Homo sapiens: one gene and its partner. The protein of the gene in region 2 interacts with the protein of the main gene of each other region in a biochemical or structural test. Each region holds a gene or a part of one and is shown on either strand. Other genes may lie near its edges.

The links.
Region 1: the proteins of ABI1 (region 2) and ITGA4 form a complex in vitro, tested with the Homo sapiens proteins (one study listed by IntAct).

What each region holds. Positions count from the first base shown.
Region 1 is NC_000002.12:181,477,570-181,481,400, reverse strand, and holds part of ITGA4 (integrin alpha-4 isoform 1 preproprotein), read right to left. Parts: intron 2,645-3,831; coding exon 2,577-2,644; intron 1,265-2,576; coding exon 1,135-1,264; intron 1-1,134. UniProt on the Homo sapiens protein: Integrins alpha-4/beta-1 (VLA-4) and alpha-4/beta-7 are receptors for fibronectin. They recognize one or more domains within the alternatively spliced CS-1 and CS-5 regions of fibronectin. They are also receptors for VCAM1.
Region 2 is NC_000010.11:26,770,270-26,774,100, reverse strand, and holds part of ABI1 (abl interactor 1), read left to right. Parts: intron 1-3,011; coding exon 3,012-3,026; intron 3,027-3,755; coding exon 3,756-3,831. UniProt on the Homo sapiens protein: May act in negative regulation of cell growth and transformation by interacting with nonreceptor tyrosine kinases ABL1 and/or ABL2. May play a role in regulation of EGF-induced Erk pathway activation. Involved in cytoskeletal reorganization and EGFR signaling.

The DNA of each region.
Region 1 (3,831 bases), on a different chromosome or scaffold from region 2:
AGTCATATGGTATGTATTTCCGAGTCCTAGAAATTGAAAATAGCATCTTTACATCTGGTGCAGTATAATCAGTTTCTAGGATTACAACAGACATATTTTAGAGTATATTAAATATAAAATCTCAATTGGGAAATGAAAACTTTAAACTTTAAATAAACATCTTGCTGAAGTTCAACTTTTTTTGCCACCAAATCTTTGTGATGACTTTTCGATGACAAAAAATTGTTCGTATTTTATGTGATAAAAGGCGTAACAAGTTATATTTCTTGAACGATTTCAAAGTATCCTTTCATCATAAACAAGAAAACATTGAATTGTAACAAATTCTTCTACTTGAAATTTCTTCTGTTTGAATAGAAAGAAAGAGTGCTTATTTTATAATTATTTCTGAGTGTAAGATGCTCACATTTGACACACATACAGTTTAAACAAAGCTGGATTTTCTGAAAATCTATAGGAAAAGCATTTATTTTCTTGTAATGGACATTAATGCCAGAAAAGTTTGCATTTCTGTTGAAATACAGATGATAAAGTATCCTACTATTGACTTATGAGATGACAGTGAGGAGGAGGAAGATGATAAAAATAGTTAAGCTCTGGGAAATATTCTAAGAACTTATGAGGTGAAGGTCAATGAGCTGTTTTTAGACCCATGTGCTTCATGGAGCCCCTCATCCAGAATGTGGTGGACAGTACCACTGGCTTTCAGTTGGTGCTTAAGGAAACTATACTTACTTATGCAGATGTTTAAATGAGTTAATTCATGTAAAGTTCTCACAAAAAGTTCCTGAGATATGGGAGGCACTCAACAGAAACAACCTGTATAATCAGTTGACTACATAGAGATAGAAACTTACTAGTGTTTCCTAAAGTGAACTACAAAGAGTAAACTAAACTAGGAGTTCTATTAAGAATTATATATTGATGATTTTAGTCACATGTGTAAATGTAAAATACTGAGTTCACTGAAGTTTCATAAATCCTATCCTTAAGAGACAGTTTCTGAACTGCCTAATTATTACTGTAATTATACTGGCCATTTAGATCTTTGGAAAATACATTTTCCTTATTTATAATTACAGTACTAGTATTTGTAAGGCACAGATCATTTAAGTTTGTCAATTTTTATAGTACCTAAATAACTTCCAAATTTTACTTGATTTTGTTTGTCTAAAAAAGCCTTGTATTTATTTGTAGTTATATTGTAGACAAAAAGAGAGCCAGTCCAGTAAGATGATCCTGGGGCCCCCATCACAATTAAATCCTGTAAGAAAAAAAAAACTATTATTATTTAAACTTTAATCTCACCACCCCAAACCTCCTCCAGATACACGATAGTGAAGAGAACATATTTTTATAATAATCAATTCCTGAAGTAGGAATATTCTGTGAAGTTAAAACATACTAGGAAAAAAAAAAAGCCAGAGAAGTTGGCTAATGGATTTCTAAAAGCGAAATCTCAGAGAAGAAACTCTGAAACTCTCATTCAATGCATTTATCAGTGGATTTCAAAAGTTGAAGGGACAAGTACTGAACGCTAGAGTAAGCTTTTGGGAGAAAGGCAATGTGGTTCCTATTAAAGAAAATCGTATGTGGGTAATTCATTAGTGCTAATTATGGAGATAATCATGTGTTGCCAAAGAATAAAAAGTAGACTTAATTTACTTCTATTTGCAAAGAACCCCTGACTAATAATGTTAGCTTAGGGAAAACATTTCTAATAATGTTAGCTTAGGGAAAAAAGTCCAATGGAATGTGGGGCATATTTTGTTATACAGAGGAAAATTTAGGAGAAGATTGGAATGAGCATGCCCTTGCCTGGTATAGTATGAACACTTTCAGCAATTAAATATCTTTAGCATATTTCTATACTCCTAAACAATCCTAAACTTAAAAAAAGTCAACTTAAACTGAAGAAAGCATTTTCTTTGTAAGCATTTTAATATAACTGTTAATATGTGCAGACACTGTCAACCCCAAACTTGATATAGTGCCTGATCTTCATGGAGTCAAAAAACATTCCTGAATTCACAGTGTGTTTTTAAGAAAACTGAGAGATTTGGGGTTGAGTACAACTGTGCCCTTTCATACATATCCTAGAATGTTAGAAAGAGAGTAAGAAATCTTGGGAATATTGTCTATCTGATTTAAGGGGATATTAAATTCTTAAATTTCCCAATTATCATAATTTAATGAAAAATATAGACTGATATTCTTCCTTTGCCCCTCAACTAGAAATTTAAAATAACATACTTGGGTTGATATTTTCAATACCTAAGTTAACAAGACAATTAACCATAGCTACTTTTGATTTTCATTAAATTGTTGATGAAAGAAATGTTCTTTAGTATAGATTTTCATTCATCTTATGCAGTATAGCCACCTAAATATTGATATTTTATTGAAATATATGTGGAATTTTGAGTGGCAAAAATTAAGTTGTAATACTCAAGTTTAAGAGACATGATGAAGATGTTACACAATTTTTACTTTAAAACATATCAGTCTTCCAAACCATGAGAAGAATTAAGATTCTATATGTAAACATTTATAGCAGCTATTTTTTGAACAATTACCTTTGTGTAAAAACTGGATATTCCAGCTTGACATGATGCAAAATTTTCTCCAAATTTTTTCACATAATCTAAAATGAAATATTAAAACAACTCAGAATTTTATCTTAAAGATAAAATCTCCATAATTTGTTTCTTAAATCCTTACAAAAATGTCCTTTAAGGTCTATAGTTTGTATTTTTTAAAAATAAAAACCAGTAACCTTGATATAACAAATCCCTTCCATATTAGTATTCAAAATATCCCTATGAAATGGCAATAAAAATATCTCCCTCTGCTTCTTCATAGGAAGCACACACAGCATATACTCAAAAAATTTTTGTCAAATGAGTAAGACAGAGGTAGGATTTGTGATTTTGAGCCCATGCTTTCTTTTTACTGTGTATATCTAAGGTGTACAACATCAGGTTTGATATGCGTATACATAGTGAAACAGTTACTACACTTTACATACCTCCTCACGGTCATCTTTTTTGTGCATTTAGAGTGAAATCTACTCTCTTGGCAAATTTCCAGTGCACAATTATTAACTCCAGTCCTCATGCTGTACATTAGATCTCTAGACTTATTCATCCTACACAAATGCCAACATCTTTCACCAACATCTTCCTATTCCTAACCCTCTCTCTGCTCACCTTCTTCTCTATGTATTTGACTTTTTTAGATTCCACAGATAGGTGAGATCATACAGTATTTGTCTTTCTGGGCCTAGCTTATTTCACTTAAAATAATGTCCTTCGGGGTCATCCATGTTGTCACAAAAGTCAGAATTTCCTTTTTTAAAGGCTGAATAATACTCCATTGTATATGTTTATGTATATATGTGTGTATATATACACCTCACACAATTCCTTATCCATTCATTCATCTGTCAATGGACACTAAGCTTGTTTCTGTAACTTGGCTATTGTGAATGCTGCTGCAATGAACATAAAAACGCAGATCTCTTTATGTGGTACTGATTTCATTTCCTTTGGATATATACCCAGAAGAGGGATTGCTGGACCATATGGTAGTTTTATTTTTAATTTGAGTAACTTCTCTACTGTTTTCTATAATGGCTGTACCAATTTACATTCCAGCCAACAGTGTGCAAGGGTTCCCTTTTCTTCACACCTTCGCCAACACTTGTTATCTCTTGCCTTTTTGATAATGACAATTCTAATAGGTGTGAAGTGATATTTCATAGTGGTTTGTAATTTGCATTTCCTTGATGATTGGTGATGTTAAGCACCTTTTCATCTACTTATTGGCCAT
Region 2 (3,831 bases):
TACACCAGTTTATATGAGGGATTTGAGCATCCTTGGATTTTGGTATCCATGGGGGTCCTGGAACCAAGCCTCCTTGATATACCAAGGGATGACTGGATTACTGTGTGTTTGTGTGCTTGTTTTTAAGCTTCAAAAGATTATGTGATCTAGGAGTTGTTAGATTTTATTATTGGTCTTAAAAGATAAGCTTAGATGTGTTACTTTTTTTGGAGTTTTAGTTTACAGTGATTCATGAATCGGGCAGCTTCAGACCACAGGAGACATGAAGCAGGTAGAAGTTCAAGAAAGCAAGACAAGCAAAATATTTGATTGGTTAGAAGTTAATTGTGGTTTCTGATTAGTAAAGTTCCTAGTTAGAGGTTAGTTGGAGGTTTCTGATTAAGTTTCTTTTAATTGTGTTTTGGTTTGCCTAAGTAGGAACCCAGAATGCTGGAGCCGTCTCAGCCTAATGGTCTCAGCCTAATGGCTTTCTGATTAATTTTTTTAAAACAGTGTAGAAACTAAAGCTTTATAATGTTTACATAGGAAGATTTTTTTTTAATTTTTATTTTATAAAGCAGAGGAGTGAGTTAAGAATCATTTCAAAGAAAGAATTGGCCTTGGCTGGGTGCAGTGGCTCATGCCTGTAATCTTGGCACTTTGGTAGGCTCAGGTGGGAGGATCACTTGAGGCCAGGAGTTCGAGACCAGCCTGGCCAACATGGTGAAACCCCGTCTCCTAAAAATACAAAATTTAGCCAAGCATGGTGGCACACAGTTTTAATCCCAGCTACTTGGGAGGCTGAGGCAGGAGACTCGCTTGAACCCGGGAGGCAGAGGTTGCAGTGAGCCAAGATTGAGCCACTGCACTCCATCCTGGGCAACAGAGCCAGCAAAAAAAAAAAAAGAATTAGCATTAGACATTTAGTGCCTATGACATACAAAACTATGATGTACTTAGAAGATAGGGAGGAATCAAAGGGAATTTCAAACAGATTCCAGGCAAATGGTAAAATTACTCATCCATAAAGGTAAATGTTAAGGAAACAAAGTGAGATTTTTTTAAAAAGAGACAGGGTCTCACTGAAGTGCAATAGCTCAATCACAGCTCACAACTTTCTAGGCTCAAGTGATCCTCCCTCCTCAGCCATCCAAGTAGCTGGGACTACAGGTGTGCGCCACTATGCCTGGCTAATTTTTTATTTTTTTTTTTCAAGAGAAGGGGTTTCGCCTTGTTGCCCAGGCTGGTCTCAAACTCTTGGGCTCAAGCAGTCCACCTGCCTTGGCCTCCCAAAGTGTTGGGAGTTACAGGTGTGAGCCACCGTGCCTAGCCTGAAATGAGATCTTAAGGAAATAAAAAAGTTTCATTTTGGATATATTTTGGGGATATTTAAATAAAAAATTTTATAGATTTCTAACAAAAATATTAGTATTTTGAGGTGTAAGATGTAGAGGTTATTTCCTACTAACACTTGCCAACATTGACACATCTGCATGTCTAATAACACTTAATAGAGGAGGCCGAACTTCATAAGAGGTTAAAGCTTATACCATTGCATAGTAGCACAGAGTTCAAGTAGAATTTTCATTCCCAATCTAATTCTTCTTTTATTCTTTCCATTTGGGACCAGCTTATACTTGAATGCTAATTTTTTTGTTTCTTATCCACTTGAAATGACAAATGAAGGAAGATATGTGGACATATTTAGAATATTTTCTTGGTTATTTTAGGATAGTATTTAGTATTATGTATATACATTATAAGATATACATTGCTATGTAAGTATATACTATACATGTATAGTATATATCATAATACAGATACTGAAGTATACATTAGTGTATTTTATCTTCAAGGATCCTAATAATGTTATACTCAAAATTTATTCTCTAGATGTGAAATGTCATGGTTAGGTAGGGTACCAGATGTTGTTTCCAGATAGAAGTAAGCAGTATCATTTTAAACAAATATTGAAGTGTACCAAATTTCTCGCACAGTTTCTATAAATGAGAATGTATCCAAAAGACACCAAATCTCTCCTTTGGATGATTTCCTTTGATACTGCCTTGTGGCCACCTGAAAAATGGTAGTTACTTGTTGAGAATGTCAGATGTTATTTAAAAAAAAAAAAAGCTTGAAGCCCCCAAATCTGTAAAAAATTAGACTCTAAAACCTGAAGATATTTTTTTTTAGTGGCATTGTACAAGTAGTGATGCTTTAGGACTACACATTGTTTCATGTTGTGTAGGCTAGTCAGCTTTAATAGAAGTAGCCTTTAGGATCAAAACAACTTTTCTTCAACTTTGAATTTTGACTTAACTGGCTCAGATGAAAACTTAGAACTAAAGCTACTTAGAACTTCCTATTAGTGTTGGCCTGCACAGGATTGGGGTTCAGAAGCTAGGAATGAGAGAGTTTTCCAGACCCTGTTTGTTTATTTCTTAGTTAGAATCTGGCTAAGTTATCACTGTGCATGATGAATTTGTTTTTAAACATCGAGATACTAGGTCCTTTTTTCATTTTTGGAAGCAATCTGTGGTTTTGAATTTTAATGTTTGCAGTTTATCACTTTTTAAACTATACTACCATTGAAGTAATGAATACTCATACTTGGACATTCATTATCCAGTAAAGTGTTAGGTCTCATGCACCGATATGTTAAAATAGCTTCACATCTAATGTGTTATGGTGTTTGTATTTAAATGAGCGTATTTTTAAAATCATCTGTTACTCGGTTGGATTAGTTCCATAGGACAAAATACTGACTTAAAAAATCATTGAGCCTGCATGAGATTGGAATAATTAAGTGGTGGTTTCCTTATGAATATAATTCTTTTGAAAAATACATGAAACACATGAGTATTTCCCCAGTACGTATGGATCTCTTTTTCTTTACAAAGTAGTTGAAACATGGCTGGAAAAAAGCTTATTAACATGAATTGAGTAACTGTAAATGTAAACCTGTCCTATCGGATATAACTTACCTAGCATTAATGTCTACTTTTTCCCCCCCTTTTTTTGCCAACGTAAAGTGGCTAAAAGCCAAGGTAAGAGCCATTACTTATCATTTGATCCACAGTATTTCCTCTGTATTGATAGAGGCTGCAGAGCCACTAAAATTTGAAAACTCTTCTTATGTCTGTCTGCTTTTCCCTGTAGGATTTATGTAGATTATTTAATACTCAAGTTCAGTTCAAATAAGCAACATTTAGCTTGGCTGTGTTAATATATCAATGATATATTGACATCTGTGTTTATATAGGAACATTAATTTTGCTAACATTTATTGCTTTGCTCATTTTTCGATAGTTGCCTTGCTTTCATTGACTTACAATTAGGAGGTTTCCCAGACATCATATGTGACTTTGTTACTGAATTGTTAGGATGAAGATGATTTTTCAGATGCGTATTTGAGCAAATTGACAAGTAAGATCTATAGTTTGTGTTCATGCACACATTTCAAAAATTTTAGGAAACCCAGTGTTTGAATGCAGATAAGTTTGATCTCAGTGAACATGTTTAACAATAAAATAAGATATTAAATCCAGTCATCTCACCTGTATTTGGCTACAATGTGATATAAATGGCATAAAATAATAGGAAGACCAAGTGCAAGTGGTTCCTTGACTTTTTAAACTGTAGTACCAAAGTCTTTATTCAAACTGTCTGGGAATCCTTAATTCACATTCTGATATTTAAAAAAAATAATACATGGTGTTAAAACACCAGGAGAACAATTTGATATAAAAATAAAAGCATTTCTTTCTACATTTTAGCATGGAAATAACCAGCCTGCAAGAACTGGCACACTGTCGAGAACAAATCCTCCTACTCAGAAACCGCCAAGTCCTC